Homo sapiens: one gene and its partner. The protein of the gene in region 1 purifies or fractionates together with the protein of each later gene. This does not show direct contact. Each region holds a gene or a part of one and is shown on either strand. Other genes may lie near its edges. The genes, in order: RGSL1 and D2HGDH.

Region 1 (3,916 bases):
TGATGATAATAATTATCTGGGGGCACTTGGAAAATATACAGACTCCTGAGCCCCACCCCTTCTAAATCAGAATTGCCAGGGGACGGTCCCGGCAATTTAGGTTTTTAACAACAACCCTGTCAATAAGGTAATTCTTATTACCACACATTTGGGAGACATCTGGTGCCCTTTTCTTTTGGGAACTAGAAGGTCATGAAAGGGTCAGGGATCTAACCATTATGCATTTCAAGATTTAGCCAGTGATACTGGCTTTTCATCTTTACTGTTTTTAGAGTGACCCTATTTGGTTGTTAATGGCTCCAACAGTCAGCCTTTTTGAACTGTGGGAAAGACGGTGGGGCAGCAATTAGGACTCAAGGGTAGGTGCACACAGCTTGATTGAAAACAGTCTGAAAGCATTCCATCTTAAGGAATGTGAGCATATATTACTACTGTATATGCCATTATTTTAGGAGGAGACCTTGACTCTATTTATTTTGCAAAAGAGGTGATAATTCAAGGAATAATATGATATTGTAGAATCATGCAGTGCTTCACACTGAACTCTCTTAAGATGTGTGCATGTTAAACTGACTAATTAATAAGGTGAATAAGGTAATTGATAACAGATTGAAGAAGTATGGTAAGCTACAATCTCATCTTGCAATACATAGAACATCAAGATGTAAAGCAAGAATCTCTTCTCACTAAAATCACTTTAAAATGCAGTATTTGGTCTTTATATATTCTAAAGAAAGTACAGCACTTTTTCAAATGTAAGTGATATTGTATTGACGATTCATTATTAACAATAATCCTTCCAGTTTTCAGTTTTCCCTCCACCCCCCATAGGAAAGCCTTTTGGACATTATATAAGCTTCCCTACAATCCCAAGACTTAAAAGCCCTCTCTGGGTGTGACACTGAAGAATTCTATTCTCAGTAATTCTTGGCTAAAGTTTGAAGGATTATAGGGCTTTTGGTCTCTCATCTTAATATTTACTTCCTATTAGGGAAGAACAGGAGAAATGAAGAGTTGTTTAATGAGAAAACCAAGAGCCTGAAGAGTCTTCAGAGGAAGGGAGTTCAAACCTCTTGGAAGCTGATGTTTTAATTTTAATTTTTTAAAGATGAGGTTTCACTCTGTTGCCCAAGCTGAAGTTCAGTGGTGTGATCACAGCTCACAGCAGCCTTGAATTCCTGGGCTGAAGCAATGGAGGTTGATGTTTTAAATGGGCAGAATATCCAGGAGTTACTGCTTATTAAAATTACATCAAATGTAACCGTTTACAAGACCCTTAGGAGCTGAGTTTAGCAATGCAAAAGTCACCCTAGCATGGGAGAGGTTGGAGCAGACAAGAGATCTTGGGCACAATTATAAAGAACTTGTCAAATAAAATAGTATGAACTAAAGGCTTAAGTATAGGAGGAGTCTTGTATGTCCAAGGGGATTCAGCAGATTAGGTAAGATAAAGACTTATCTTCAGATTAAGGCCTACACCAGAGGTAAGTAGATCACTGCCAGATAGAATCTGGAACCCCTTAGAGAAGGTGTCATTACGTGTTCACAATGGATATAGTTCTATTGACTGGGGGGTAATTCTGCCCCTAACAAATTACTGTGTCAGGAAGAGCATGGCAACATGAGCAGTGCTGGTGAGTCTCTGCCAGGGATGTCTCCAAGGCCTTGAGTCTCTCAAATAAGGCAAACCATTCATCTTCCCAATTGTTAATAGATCTGAGCCATTCAGGGGCACCATGGGTGACTTTTGTGTTATTCATGCCTTTGTTTTCCTTCTCTTTCTCCTTCTTCCCCTTCCTCCTACCTTCTGCCACCAGATCTTTGAGGATAGTACAGGGCCTTATTCATAAGACAACTAAGGCAAGAGGGAGGAAGTAAAATGTGGATTGGGCCACCTCTCCTCCAGAGAGAAGACTGGTATGGGGTTTGAGATTATGCAGTGATTTCATTTGTTGCCAAGTCAATATTATTATGGCGTGGAATGGGTGCTAAAAGCCTTCTCAAATTATTAGGAAGTTTGAAGGCAGAACAGGTAAGAAGGAAAAACAAGAATGGAGAAATGAGAGGATGAGGAAGGGAAGGATGTACAGAGCCTTGTCTCTATATCTCCTTAAGACTGTTTTGGCAATGGCAAGCCCTAGCATAGTCAGGCCCCTTGCCACCAGCGGTGTGTGTAGCTGTGAACAACAATCACTAGGGAATTTCTGCCAAACCCCACTTTTCTGTATTCAGATGGGCTCAGTAATATACTCATTCAACAAATCCATGTTAGACTCTATGAATGATAAACAAACAAAAGTCCAAAAGATTGAAAATCATTGGCTGGGAGCGTTGGCTCACCCTTGTAATCCTAGTACTTTGGGAGGCTGAGGCAGGTGGATTACCTGAGGTCAGGAGTTCAAGACCAGCCTGGCCAACATGGTAAAACCCCATCTCTACTGAAAATACAGAAATTAGCCAGGTGTGGTGGCATGCACTGTAATCCCAGCTACTGGAGAGGTTGAGACACAAGAATCACTTGAATCTGGGAGGCAGAGTCTGCAGTGAGTTGAGATCTTGCCACTGCATTCCAGCCTGGGTGACGGAGTGAGACTTTGGCAAAAAAAAAAAAAAAAAAAGATTGAAGATTATCTTTTGAAAGAACAATTTATTCCACATTTACAGAACTTAGACATTGTGCAAACACTTTTAGAGCCTAGAGGAAGAAAGGTGAAAAAACAAAGTCCCTCCTCTCACACGCTCAGTCTGATGAGGAAGACAGATATATCGATGGATAAAAACAGTCAGACTTGTTAATTGTAATAATGGAGGATATACGTGATGGTATAGGGAGATAGTGATGAATTCTACCATTGCAGTAGATTCTACCTTTCTTGGCTCACCAAGATTATATGTAAACCAGTTCTTAATGGATGACTATTAATTTGTGAGCTGACTGTGCTTAAGAAAACATTTGAAGCAATGGGAATATGGGAACAAAGACATGGAGGTTTCAAGTGAGAGTACCTAGCACATGCAGGAAACAGCAATGCCTTGGCTTAGCTTGCAAACAGGAGGCAGAGTGCGCAGAGAGGCAGGAAATGAGACTGGGAGGAAACTCAAAAGCCAGATGGGGTAAAGCCTCAGATACTATACTAGAGAGTTTGGACTTTACCTTCTAGGACATCAAGGAGATTTTGAAAGACTTTAACAATAATAATATCAACAGATTATGGTGGCAGTACGTGTAGGGTGGTTGGAAGGGCAAGAGGTGGGAGCTAGGGAGACCATTTAAGAAGCTGATGCAGAAGTCTAGGTGAGAGAGCATAGAGGCCTGTAATGGAAGAGTAACTTTATGGATGGAAAGGAGAAGACAGATTCCAGAGATAGGTACAAAGAGAAACCATACAGCATGATCCCCCATTGCATGTAGGGACATGGAGGGGAGAGAGAGAGAACAAGAGAGTAAGAGCAAGAGTAAGAGAGATTGAGAGTGAGAGTGAGAGTGAGAGACAGGGACAGAGACAGAGAGAAGAGCCTCAGTTTTCAGGATTAGATAATTTATTGAATGATAATTCCAGTAACTGGGACTGGGAATGTAGGAAAAGGAGCAGGTTGGGAGGCCTGGACACATTGAACATGTTGAGATGAAAGTGCCTGATGGATATGCATGTAGAGCTGGCCCATAGCTCATGTATATTTAAAACCAGAGTGAAGGAGAGAAGCCTGGACTGAAAACACAGATTTTGGAATCACCCATATGGAATAGATTAAATAAATCAAGGACTGCTTATAAAAAGAAGAGCAGAGGGCTTGGGAGGGGTACACATAAAACACACATAGCACTTGACAGCAAGAAAAAAGATGTATGTGAACAGAGGGCAAGTGCTGATACCAGCTCTGTCACTCACAATAGTGTTTATCTGGGTTTCCTTTT
Region 2 (3,816 bases), on another chromosome or scaffold:
AACAGGGAAGGCTGGGGGAGCCGGGAGCCACCACCTCACCTGAGGATGTGGGACACCTCCTCCGACGTCCGTGGCCTCAGCAGCACCTTGCTACAGCCTGTGACAGGAAGAAGATCCTATGAGACAGCGTGGGGGGAGCTGCAGATGAGGCAAGTGGTCACTCGCCCCAGAGAGCGAGTTTTTTTTTTTGGAGACGGACTCTCACTCTGTTGCCCAGGCTGAAGTGCCACGATCCTGGCTCACTGCAACCTCTCCCTCCCAGGTTCAAGCGATTCTCCTGCCTCAGCCTCCCAAGTAGCTGGGATTATAGGCACCCGCCACCACACCTGGCTAATTTTTGTATTTTTAGTAGAGACAGGGTTTCACCACATTGGCCAGGCTGGTCTCGAACTCCTGACCTCGTGATCCGCCCACTGCGGCCTCCCAAAGTGCTGGGATTACAGGCATGAGCCACCATGCCCAGCCCCCAGAGAGTGATCTTATTTGGGAAGCTGAGGAGGGAGAATCATCTGAGTCCAGGAGGTCAAGGCTGCAGTGAGCTATGATCGCAACACTGCACTCCAGCCTGGGTGACAGAGCAAGAAGCCATCTCAAAAAAACCAAAACTAGGTCCCACATGGGAGGTGGTGGGCCGGGCACTGGGCACAGTGTGCAGAAGTGGGTAAGGCTGGGCCCATGGATGAGAGTCCCACAGGCCAGGCATTGGCAGCTCCAAGGTTGCCCACCCACTTGTGGTGAGGTCGGCTCGGTCCCACGGTAACGGGATGTCTGCAGGCTTCCCTCCTGCCACGCCACCACACTTCCTTTCGTGATGTGTGTGCACCTCACAAGCAGACGCTTGAGACTATGTGGACATCCTGTTGCTCCTCAAGCTTCACCCATTAACATCTTTGATTATCCTAGACCAAATCAGTTACTAGGATGGTTGCCAACTGGTGATTTTCCTAAATCCATCTGTCCACCTACACTTCCTTTTATTTCTTTTGAAACAGGGTCTCACTCCGTCACCCAGTCTGGAGTACAGTGACACAATCACAGCTCACTGCAGCCTCAACCTCCTGAGCTCAAGCGATCCTCCTGCTTCAGCCTCCCAAGCAGCTGGGACTACAGGTGCCTGCCACCATGCCCGGCTAATTTTGATATTTTTAGTAGAAACAGGGTTTCACCATGTTCCCCAGTCTGATCTTGAACTCATGGCCTCAAGCAATCCACCCACCTCAGCCTCCCTAAGGGCTGTGGTTACAGGCATGAGTCGCCGCGCCCGGCCTCTTAGCTGACTCTGCCACGAGGGAGGGCTTTCCCTTCGCTCTCACTGACGTGTTTATGTAGCTGCTTATTCACAGTGATGTGGGCTCTCGGCTTCTCACTTTATTCACTGGGCTATAAGTCTTGGCCGCCTTATTTGCTGAATGCCTGGATGTGACCAGTGGGAGCCCTCTGAGCTAGTTCGCCGGTGTTGCTAACCACTGCTGCCCCAAGTGAGCAGGCGTCTTTCTGCCTTTGGGTTTCCTTGAGACGACTTTCCCAGGTGATGGGGGCTGCAGAGAGGCAGCAGGTGCAGTCACGGGAGCCTGTCACCTCTTCGTGGAGCTCTGAGAACCAGGCTGTGGTGTCCACCTTGCTTTTCTGATCAGAAAGCCACTTATGTCTCTTTCATCAAATGAGCAATTTTTGCAGAGGGGCCTGCTGGGCACCTGGGCCTCGGCCCGACACTTCAGTGCGGCACCTGAGGGAACCCTGGCACCTGCGCTCACTGCGTCCCTGTCCCGAGTGGGCTCAGGAGCCCCAGGACTCATGGCAAAGCTTTCGACTCGGACACACTTGTGACGCGCCTGTGGCAGGGTTCTCAACACAAACATGAGTACCCCCCAAGAATGCAGGCCAGGCCGCGTTCCAGACACAGAATGAGCACAGAATTTCCCACTCCTGTGATGTTTACCTTCTAACGGGAAAGATGAAAAGGAGGGCTCCCTCCCGGTGGTCCAGTGTTAACGATGGGAGCCCCACAAAGACGGAGGGGGCCATGGGGGCAAGGCCGCCAGAGGTGACACAGGGGCCCAGCCTGTTTTCACACCGCGAAGCTCCCACCTTCCTGCCAGTGCAGGCGTGCTCACTAAACGTCTGCAGCATCCATCCTGAGCAAATGGTCTAGATTTTTGAATATGATGCTTAATGAGTTTTCAGAAGTCTAGACAAGCTCTCTCTCCAAAAGCAAGCCACATGAAGGGATAATTCACCTAAAATTCAACAACTAAGCCTCACATCAGCAAACACCTACTGAGCAGACATTCAGGACCAAACCTGTGGACTCAAACATGAGTGAAATTCAGCCTCGCCCTCACCAAACTCGGGGCAGCAGGACGCAGAGGAAGGCGCCCTCCCACAGGCACACACAGACACCGAGGGGCGGCCCTGCAGCAGGACAGGGTGTCCATGGCCACGGATTCCCAAAAAGGTGCTGACCAGAGAGCGGGGACCCAGGGGGACAGCCAGTTCTTGCCCAGTCAGGCTCAGGCAAGGCAGAGGAGAGGAAGAGCGTGGTCACCCCTCAATCTCAGTTACAGCTTCCTCCCCGCTCCTGCATGCCCCGGGGAGGTCCCTTGCCCATGAGGGCAGCAGCGGCATAGCCCAGGGTGCTGGCCTCCGAGCAGGCTGGGAGCACGGGAACCCAAGCATTGTGCTCAAGGCTCACGCTAGGTTCCTGCCCCACTTACCCGCACGGTGTTCCTGAGGCAGTGGCTCCAAGTCCCATTTTGTAGGGCAGGCACTGAGGGTCATCTGCCTAGGGCCACCCAGACAGCAGTGCTGAGCCAGGACTGGGGCCCGACTTAGCCAAGCCCAGGGTGGGCGTCCATCCTCACCTGCCTCCGGGGACAACATTCGTGAGCCCACAGGCCCTGGGCCATGGTGTGCACTCAGGGCAGCAGCTTGAGATCGCCCCAGAGGGGTCCTTACTTCGGGAGCAGGGTGAGGGTGGGGGCCCTTCCACTCAAGAGAGCTCCTACACAGTGACCATTGGTCCAGCGATTTCCAGTGACTCCCAGCCTTTCTGCAGGGAAAGAGCTGCTTCCATTATCTGAGCCTAGACCCCAGTTCAACTTGCTAACTTTCTGAACTGTTTTAACATACGCTGCACTCCCAGATTACACGGTCTGGAAACTTTCTGAGTGTTCTTAATAATTTCAATCTTCTACAAGGGCCAACAAAAAAAAGATAAAAACAATTCCAGATCTTCCCAATGACAGCACACCCTATGTTCAGCCCCAGGACCTGGTGCCAGTTCCACAGGTTTAAATATATCATTTTGTTGTAAATTAAGAGTCAACCAATTCTCTTCTACCTCGCTTTACTATTTTAGCACACAGACACATGCCACCATACCCGGCTAATTTTTAATTTTCTGTAGAGATAGAGTTTCACCATGTTGCTCAGGCTGGTCTTGAACTCCTGGGCTCAAGCGATCTCCCACAGAACTGGGTTACAGGCGTGTAACCCAGCTGTAGTCCCAGCTACTCAGGAGGCTGAGACAGGAAAATCGCTTGACCCCAGGAAGTGGAGGTTGCAGTAAGGGGAGATCGTGCCACTGCACTCCACCCTGAGTGACAGGGCAAGACTCCATCTCAAAAAAATAAAAAAAGAGAAAACTGGGCACTGTTACCAAAAGGAAGTGCCAGCCCCAGAGGCTGAGAAGTCCCTCATTCGTGCACAGACTTGTATGCCACTGGGCAGAAGTGCAGTGGGAGGAGAGGAGCAGGCATTGTTGGCCAGGAGCCCTGCATCTTACCTAATGGGCTCCAAAAAGATACGTCTGCTTCC

Evidence for each region.
Region 2: the proteins of RGSL1 (region 1) and D2HGDH fractionate together in Homo sapiens (co-fractionation; one large-scale study listed by BioGRID). This does not show direct contact.

What each region holds. Positions count from the first base shown.
Region 1 is NC_000001.11:182,448,545-182,452,460, forward strand, and holds the start of RGSL1 (regulator of G-protein signaling protein-like), read left to right. Parts: upstream 1-1,601; 5' UTR 1,602-1,621; coding exon 1,622-1,634; intron 1,635-3,916.
Region 2 is NC_000002.12:241,737,314-241,741,129, reverse strand, and holds part of D2HGDH (D-2-hydroxyglutarate dehydrogenase, mitochondrial isoform 1 precursor), read right to left. Parts: intron 98-3,816; coding exon 40-97; intron 1-39.